Linked DNA regions of Homo sapiens. The protein of the gene in region 2 interacts with the protein of the main gene of each other region in a pairwise test. Each region holds a gene or a part of one and is shown on either strand. Other genes may lie near its edges.

Region 1 (5,200 bases), on a different chromosome or scaffold from region 2:
GAGAGACAAGGCAGGCGATTTTGATGGGAAGTTGTCCTGGGGCAGGGGCTGGAGTTAGGGACCTATGAGCCCTCAGTGTCCATCTCCAAGTCTAAGTTTTGCTTCCCCACAATTAGCTGTGTTAATTACCCAAAGAAGATTAGATGTACCAGGGAGAATGGCATACTGGAGAGAGAAAAAGTAAGAAGCCATTCTTGCATCTTATTTTAGCCACTGATTAGGTATCTGAAGTTGCATCTTCCCAAAAAATCTTCCATACCAAAGAGTGGAAAAAACTTTTGTTTCGCCAACTACGCATAATGAAGAAACCGTTTAACATTTTAGGCAGCAGCTGGAACTTGACAGTCACCTTTTGTCTTCACATTACAGATAGAGAAACCTTCTGCAATGGCAAAAAGAAAAGTTATTTGATGATTGCAATTCAGGGGAAAAACTCAATTTGATTTAGAGAAACATAAAATGATTGTTTTTAATAAAGAACAGGGACCACTTGTTTCTAGTCAATATGTCTGAGAAATGTCTTACAAATAGACTCAGTGTCACAAATAGATGATTTACAAATAGACTCAGACCCACTGTAGCGTTAAGGATGGAACCTGGATTATGCATTCAGTGCGGGCATCAATTTTGACACTCAGAGACCAGGTGAAGGTGTCCAAGAGACGAAAGCTCAGCTCTCTCATCACTCAGGTGAAGGAGAAAGGGGACCAGTGGTTCCAGCACGTGTTCCGCAGGCCGGCAGCATCAGCATCACCTGGAACTTTTTAGGAACGGAGATCGGAAGTCCCACCTTGACCTGCCGAGATAGCTCTGGGGTGGGCCCAGCAACCCAGGTCTAACAAATTTTCCAGTGACTCTCCTGCTGGTTCAAACTTCAGAAACAGTGAAAGAGACAATCTCTTAGGGTCTTTGCAGCGTCGACTCTTAGGAATTTTACAGGAGAGCAATACAAAGAGAAAAGGCAACAAGTTTAAGAAACAAACAAAAGAAAAAACAGAAAGACAGATATATTCAGATAAGTAGATACAGAATAAAAGACAAGAGCACATCTCAAAGGACATGAACCCAGAAAAACAATCTTCGGTAGAACAGCAGTGGCTTTTTTGATCTTCCTTGAAACTTTGAAAGCTAAAAACTCTTAAAGCATTGGTATATTTCTGCAACTACAGGCATACAGGATAAAAAAGTCCATTGCCCCCTCAGTCAGATGATAACGACCCATTTTTATCTACTGAGGTGAATTCACCTCATTAGATTCAGGGCTTGTTGGTTTACAATATTCCTTAAAAATTCTGAATGCTTTTCTTCCCTCTGAGCTTTGATGGGGTTAATTTAAAGGCTCTCGTGGAGCAAAGCAGTTCTTGGGCTACAAATTACAGGACGGTGCTTAGGGATCTTGGTGTGGGAATGTCTTAGTTGGAGATTCCGGGCGGTGTTGAGAATCATGTCTTTTATCTTCTCAAAGCAATGTTGTCTCCTAATGGATCCATTTCCTTTCCCAGTGAGCCCTGGGGAGCACACGACATGTTTCTAGGGACACTAACTTGGGGGATCGCTCTGGGAAGGGGCTTGGGGCCAGCATGACCTCAGTGTGGCGTGTCAGAGACTTCCTCACTGCGATCCCTGGGAGATGCGCAGGGCGGGGCGAGGGCCCTTCTCCAGCCATCCTTGCGCTCTCCCTGGCGAAGAGCCTCAGGTGCCCCCGGGCTGGAGGACCTCCCCTGGGCCTGAGGTTTTGATGACGACGAGAGGCCGGTGGCCAGCTGGACACCTGTTGGGAGAGTGGGTGGCTCCGTCCCCGGGGTGCGCCCGCGCTGGGAGCCCTCGCCCGCCGCCACCGCGCGTCCGCGCTCGCAGGGAGGGTGGCCGGGAGGCTGGGCGTGGGGCGGCCAGGGGGAGGTGGGATTTACTTTGCGGATTGGGGCTCACAGCTGTCACTCCGAAAGGGTGGGGCTTTTTAAAAGCAGACAAATTTTTAAGGCGAAAGCCCCAGCCGGCTCCGGGCACCGTGGCGATCGCCTCCGTTCCGTTCCGGATGCGGTCCTTGCGGAGCGGAGCCCCCGCGCCTGCTGGCAGGAGGCAGCTGCGTTGCTCGGCCGCGTCCCCGAGCCGGCGGGCCCTCCTCCGCGCACATCTGGCCCGCCTCCCCCGGGCGCAGGGGGGAGCCCCGCGTCTCCGGAGCCTGCAGTGCGCTCGGCGCGCGTAGAGCCCCGCGAGCCCCAGCCGGGCCCGGGGCCGGGCGGGCCGAGGCGGCGGCCGGGGAGCAGCCGCACCCGCCAAACTTTGGGTGCCGGAGCGCGCGCGCGCCCGAGCCCCGAGGCGCAGCGGCCGGCCTGGGATGGGGGCTGCGGGCCAGGGAGCCCCGGGCCGCCCAGCGAGCCCGGCCACCCGCCCGGGGGGCTCCGAGCCGCCTCTGCCCGCGTCCCGGGCTCCGCAGCCCCGCCACCCCGGCGCCGCCTGCGCCAGCGCCCGCTAGCCAGCCCGGGAGCAGCTGGAGCCGCCGGAGCCCTGCGCCTGGAGGCGCCCCTCCTTGGGCCACCGGGGGCCACTCTTCGCTCGGGTAAACAGGAAAGGAAATACCCCCTGTGGATTAAAATTTAAAAAAAATTCTGTTGGGGTCGAAGGAGGGAGGTGGGGTTTGCCTGCGCGCGTGTTGGACTCCGGAGAGCAACTCAGGAGCCCGCGCGGTCGTCGCCTCCCGGCCTGGCCATGGACTGGCGGGAAGAGGGAGCAGGGCGCCCGGGCTGCTCGGGCCCCTAGCCGGGCGCTCCCTCGCCACCGGCCCCGCTGCGGGCCTCTAGGGGACTGAGACGGTCTCTTGTTCGCCTGGACGGCGCCGGGGAGCGGAGGATCTGCGCTCCGGGTCTCCAGGATGTGCCCGTCTGAGATGGGGACGCTGTGGCACCACTGGTCGCCGGTACTCATCAGCCTGGCCGCCCTGTTTTCCAAAGGTGAGGACGCCGCGGCCGCCAGGGCCCGGGGACTAACTTCGCCTGGAGTGAGTGTGTGGGAGTGTGTGGAGGATGGGGGCGGCCGGGAGAGAGGGCTCGTGTGCAAGTGTGTGTGCGCGCTTGTGTGCATGTGTGTGTGCGCGCGTGTGAACGTGCGCTCGTGCGGCAGCCAAGCTCCTCGGACGCCCCTTGGCCGAAGGTGCTTGTCCTGGAGCACTTGGGTGGGAGGCCTTAGGTGAGACTACTAAGGAGCCGAAAGGAAAGGAAGGCTGTTTCCTGAAAGCCTTTTCTGTAAAGGGAGAGGGCGTGGGGACCCTTGAGAGGAAAGGTGGCCTCTGGAGGGCCGAGCCGGCTGTCGGGGGAGGAGGGGATTGAGATGACCAGGGAGATTTCTGGAATTTGGGATTGACTTTCCCTGGTGGCACTGACCTATTTGGAAATAATTTTGGAGCACTCCTGTTGTATGGGAATACTATTTTGTGTATTATAGGCTGCCAAAAATATAGCCTGGGGGGCGGCTCTGAAGAAGGGGGATGGGTTTCTCCAGGTCTGCCGCTGTGAGGTTTGGGCACAGGGTCTGGCGCTCACCCTTCCGTAGGGTGCTGGGAGCAGCAGCGGCCCCGCAGGGTGCACGTGGAGTTTCAGCTACAAGTTGTGACCCGAATTTTCCCAGCGGAGCCCTGACTTGAAGCCATGTGTCAAGGCAGGAATTCCTCAATGTTTCCTCTTCTCTTCTGCCAGCATCCCTGTCTGTCATGGGAAGAGCAAGTTTGGAAGCTCTGGACAGTCATTCTTCCTTGAAGAGAAATGGTGTGATTTGTGCGGGAGATTCTTTCTCATGATTGACCTGGGCTGCTTGTGTGTGGTTCCCCCACCCGTGCCCCTTTCCTGCAGATAGATACACTGGGAGGAGAGTGAAGCGTCTCAGCAGTCTCTAATACGTGCTGCAAGAACCCTGTACCCATATTTTTCTGCAAAGATTTTTGAGATGAGATCTCTCTCAGAAACTTCAAAGCCAATTATCACGCACAAAGTCTTTTAATTACATGAATTGTCTGTTCTCTGAGTTCTTCCAGAATCACTGAGGTTATGTTGCTTTGGATCTGATAATAGATGAAGACAGTTGAAATGCCGAGTTCTGTGATGGTTCGATTTAGAAAGAGGAATTTACGTTCCCCCTCCTTCCCTGTCTTTGAAGTGTGGTTGAAATGGGCTCACGTTTCCTAATTATGAGTTAGAACAATCCCTGGGATCAGAGCCTTCTGGATTTATAATGTGCACAGGAAACCAAAGAAAAGGTTGATGAATTCAGTGAACCTGACTCAGGCAGACGTGAGGTTAAAAAAACCAAAATCCACAGCAACAACAGCCCAGCATTTTTTTTTTGGGGCGGGGGGGGTTGGTTCTCACTTGGTTTTATAATAGGTCCAGACTTCTTTGTGTTTATGCTGCAATAACAAGGTTGTATTAAGAAAGGTACAGAATAGCTTTGGAAATAGGACCTCACTATTGTGTTTTTTCACTTAGGTACATAGGTCTGTTACTGATTTCTTTATTAGACTGAGCAGTGTTGAAGAGAATTGTATTTAGCCTAATACTTGTGAACTTTTTCAACTGGGAACACTGAACATGTCCTTAAATGAGGTCCTGTGTGATGTGGAAGCCTCTTTACTAGGTGGCCAAAAATTAGCACGTAAAATGTTTACGATAAGCCTAGCATATGACATATTTTGTGTATTGAACTTAAGCAAGTCAGCCAGACAGTTCAAAAGTGAATCAGTTCTGTGTGGAGACTTTGTACAGCAATTAGCAGAGTCTGAGCACATGGTAGATGATTCAGGATTAGTCACAATATGTCAAAGAACAAGAAAAAAATCAACACCCCTATTAGCAAATTGCATAAAATGGAATTTCATGATGCAGATGTGATTTATACATTCAGGGACAGGGCCATTCTTTTCCCAATGTGTTCATATCACCTCCCTCTAAGATTCTCTGATCACTTGAAAGTTCTCACCCATCTTGCAATCAAGTATGGACTATATTGAAAAGGATTTTAATTGAAAGTAAACACACAGACACACACACATACACACATACCCCAAAGTGCCTCATTTGTCTGGGGCTGATTGAAAAAGAATATTATCAAGTATTAAATATCTGTTTCCACATATTATCATTTCTACTGTATTGTCTTTCCAAATAGGAATTTTTGAATGAAACAAAGGGCAGATTTTAATACCAGGTTA
Region 2 (4,481 bases):
GATTATTTCACCAAATTAATGTTTAAGATCTCTATCTGGTGTGTCAAACCTTGATTGCATATTGGAATCACCTGGGAGCTTTAAACAGCTTGAAGTCTTCATCCCAACTCCAGAGATTTTGGTTTAATAAATTTGGATGGACATGAGGAGTTTGAAAGTTACCCAGGTGTTTCTACTGTGTAGCTAAGGTTGAAGACCATTTCTCTGTTTCCATAAACCTCAACTTTGGCTGCATGTTCGTATCATCTGGGGCACTACACAAACTTCTGACTCTGAGCTTCTTGTTTAGTTGAAGTGGGGAATGGCCTGATACTTGAGGGTTTTAAAAAAGTTTCTAGATAATTCTAATATAAATATACATTCAGAATCACTGCTTTACCCCATGTATTTCCTGTAAATTGATAGTTAGCTCTAGAGGCTTGATTGAATGTATACTCTTATTGCACTTTATAATCCCATGTTAGATGTTTTAATTTAATGAGTTAGGATGAAATTTCTGTGTTTCACTGAGTTTTATTCCATGTAAGACTAGCTTCACATTTTTCTCCTAATAACATATTTGATTTTTTAATAACCCTACCCCAAACCAGAGCTTCTCCTTAGCATATAAAGTTATTCTCTTGCCATTTGAAAGTGTGTAGACTCTTCAGACATAAACTAACCACCTATAAATCCAGAGTATCAGAATCAAATAGAATTTCAGTGCGGGGATTAAATGAGAACATTTTATAAAACCTTTACACTTTAAATGGTAATCTTAAAATGTATAATTTATTGAAGTATTTCAGAATGATTCTAGAGAAGCCATCTGTCACCAAGATTAGCAGGAATAGACTTACAATGAGGAAACAGGCACCAATCATCACGGCTTTCATTTTAACATCAAGGTCTCTAGGGAATTGGATTCCAAAGTTGTCAGCATCAGTAAATGCCTCTCTTAAAAACCCAGACCAGTGCTTAGAAATCCTGCCAACCACAATTTGTTCATCAAGAGATGTAATCTAAATTGCAAAAAAAAAAAAAACTTAAAAATTTCTAGAAAACTTATAGCAAAATTACTTTTAACACTGGAGTAAAAGGAAGGAAATATTATAGTACATTTATGCACCATACATGAGTATACAGTTAATATGTTATATTAGATGCATATAGGCTCCTGTATATTTATAGATACATAAAAAACTGTTCTATTGTGTAGGAAACTTACATAAAAGTAGTTTTACGAAATTTTTAACATTTTCTACTTTATATTAAGATAGACATTAATATATGTTTTATTTATTTGAATTTAACCCAAACAAAATTTAAGCAGAAAAGGATATAAATTTGAAGTATTTCTTTGATATAATTTCTAGAAGCCATCAGGAAGGAAACAAATGAAACTCCTATTAGACTTCTGCTTTTTAGAGGTGCACAGGGAGTTTACACAGCTGAATGTTTAAATATGAAGAGAGGCCTCACTACCACCCACTGTCAGTAGGAAAACATAAAATGCTAAGAGCCTAGAAAAGAAGACTGACAGTTTGAGTGAAGAAAAGCAACCAGTAAGTAACTTGATGGGATGCCTCAAGTCAAGGGTGTGGGCAAGACCAGCTAACTAGTGGGGTGTGAAGAATAAAAAAAGAATAGGTAGACAAGATCTCCAATGTAAAACTTTTCTATTTTTGTGAAAAAAAATAAAGGTTGTAAAAATTCTGCTGAGGAAAACTGAGGGTCATTATATAGCATTGAAAAGTGTGTGCTCAGACAAAAACACCTCACCAGATGGGCAGGTAGTGGCGGAATATAACTAACATTCACCAAACTACATGTTAAGAGTTATGTCAACCCAAGTCAGGAATGTCATTTTCAAATTTGAACACAGGATCAGAAATATAAATAATGACCTACATATACAGGTCACATGTGTCAGCAACACCCTTTGAAGCCATTGCCTCTGGTTGTGACCATCTAGATAAATGTAGGGAAACTGAAAACATTTGATTCATTTTAGAGTGTTGGTGAAAAGGTTCTTTTTAAAAAGTGAAATAAATGTCTAATATAAAACTGTGATTGCTATGGATTATTCTTCATCAAATATTCATTTCATTTTTCCTCCCATTGTAGTCTGAAGCATTTTCCTATTTCTTCATAATTAGGCTTTGCCTTGTGGCTTGTTTGACCAATGGAATATTAGCAGCTGTAACATGGGCAGTGATCTTACATATGGGTAAGTGGTTTGCTCTGACTCTTGGTCTCAGGTAAATAGCTACTAGAAAAGCATCGTCTAGGTAGCCTCTGCTGCTACATATCCAGAGTGAACATATATCATCTAAGCATTTGAGACTATTAATGAGAACTTTATATTTTTATTTTAAAAATCATTCAAATTTTGAAATATTTACAAAATAAAAAATGCTGAAGGTAACTTACTAGCTACCATAAACCTACTACTAGACTTAACAAATATTTCTCCATTTTGATGGCTATAGCAAGAAATTAAAAAATTCACCAAATTTATGCAAGAAGTAGAAAATAAAATTTTAATGGAGGATCAGAAATATAAATAATGACATGCATATACAGATCATTATAAAGTCTAGATAATTTTTATAAAAAAAATTTATAAAGTATAGATAATTTTAGCTAAATTCTATATAACATTTTAAAAACAAAACAAAAAAATATGGTAAAATTACTTCAACCTCTGGAAATAATACGTTGGTATTTACAACATCATAAGAAGTATACATTAAGTTTTCTTTTTTTTTTTTTTTTTTTTTTTTGAGACGAAGTCTTGCTCTTGTCCCCCAGGCTGGAGTGCAACGGCGCGATCTCCGCTCACTGCAACCTCCTGTTCCCGGGTTCAAGGGATTCTCTTGCCTTAGCTTCCCGAGTAGCTGGGATTACAGGCGCCTGCCACCACGCCTGGCTAATTTTTGTATTTTTAGTAGAGACGGGGTTTCACCATGTTGGCCAGGCTGGTCTCGAAATCCTGACTTCAGGTGATCCGCCCGCCTCGGCCTCCCAAAGTGCTGGGATTACATAAGCCACCGTGCCCGGCCTACATTAAGTTTTTATCCCTGCTTCCTGACACAGAATTTCTAAAATGCTCATAACTTTCTAAGTGATAGGGGTAATAGGAGAGTCTTGTTTTAATATTTGGTCTTTGTCCCAGATTGCTGGCACGCAGCTTCAAAATCCTTAGACTCTTCTAAGCAATAAATCTTTTATATACTAAGATGACTGGTGGTTGGTGGTTGGGGTGCCTGATAGCTTCAGTATCAGGCTGGACACCAGAAAAACCAAGCAATGCTTAGAGGATTGAATCATTCAGTCCTGTCCCCATCCTCCGGAGATGAGAGTAAGGCCAGAGTTTGAGTTATTCACCAATAGCCAGTGGTTTAAATCAGTCATGCCTACATAATGCAACTTCCTAAGAACTCTAAACAACAGGTTCAAAGGCTTTCTGGATTGGTGAACTCACTTGCCATGAAGGTGGCTTACCCCAGTTCCACAGGGACAGATCCCCCTTTGCTCAGAACTCTTCCAGAATTCATCTACTAACCTCTTCATCTGGCTATCCATCTGTATCCTTTATAATAAATCAGTAAACATAAATAAAATATGTTCCTAAATTTTGTAAGTAGTTTTAACAAATTGTCAAACCCATGGAGGAGGTTGTGTGAATCCTGCTTTATAGCTAGTTGGTTAGACGTACAGGAGGTCTTGCATTTGTGGTTGGAATTTGAAATTGGGAACAGTTTTGTGGGACTGAGACCTTAAACTGTGGTGTCTGCATTATCTACAGGTGAGTGAGTGTCAGAATTGAACTGAGTTGTAGGGAACCCAGTTGATGTCTGTAGAGAAGGAGAATTGGTTGACATGGAGAAAAAATATCCACACATTTGGTATCAGAAGTATGAGTAAAAAAAAAGAATTGTAGTGTATTATATTAGCATGAAATTTATAAATCTGTAAATTTAATACTAATAATTGGTAAAGATAGTCTAAAAAACTAAATATTTATTTGCAGTGTAAATATAAATGCAAAAAATGCAAATAGGCCACTAGCACATAGAACCTAGGTAAACATCAAAAGAATATATTAAAATAATGTGTAAGATACTAGAGGAGCACTATATAATTCAAAACATATAATTTATGAATGGTTACTGAAAAGGTATTTTTAAATTACAAACTCAGCATTTGTATAAAATTTGCTATATGCATTATTTTCCTGCATTCTCTAATCGTATGACTATTAGTTACTCTTAGAATCTGGTGTCTGCAGACATAGAGAATTGAAGAGCTACTGAATGAAATCTAAATTTTTAGTATTAAGAATGTTTCACAATTTTTTAGTGATTTACTCATTTCTTAGGAATAAATTATATTCCAATTAGACTTTTATTAATATCATTCCTAGAAGGAGAAATAATCTTTCACTTGTCTGGATTTTTATGGGCATGAAAAGAAAACTATTATTATACATATCCCTA

The links. Proteins that work in one complex are often made in the same cells at the same time.
Region 1: the proteins of PLSCR2 (region 2) and TMEM132D interact in a two-hybrid assay, tested with the Homo sapiens proteins (one large-scale study listed by BioGRID).

What each region holds. Positions count from the first base shown.
Region 1 is NC_000012.12:129,901,012-129,906,211, reverse strand, and holds the start of TMEM132D (transmembrane protein 132D precursor), read left to right. Parts: upstream 1-2,186; 5' UTR 2,187-2,872; coding exon 2,873-2,951; intron 2,952-5,200. UniProt on the Homo sapiens protein: Regulate neuronals morphology via inhibition of the WAVE regulatory complex (WCR), a complex that controls F-actin cytoskeletal dynamics.
Region 2 is NC_000003.12:146,448,367-146,452,847, forward strand, and holds part of PLSCR2 (phospholipid scramblase 2), read right to left. Parts: intron 1,002-4,481; coding exon 840-1,001; intron 1-839. UniProt on the Homo sapiens protein: May catalyze calcium-induced ATP-independent rapid bidirectional and non-specific movement of phospholipids (lipid scrambling or lipid flip-flop) between the inner and outer leaflet of the plasma membrane.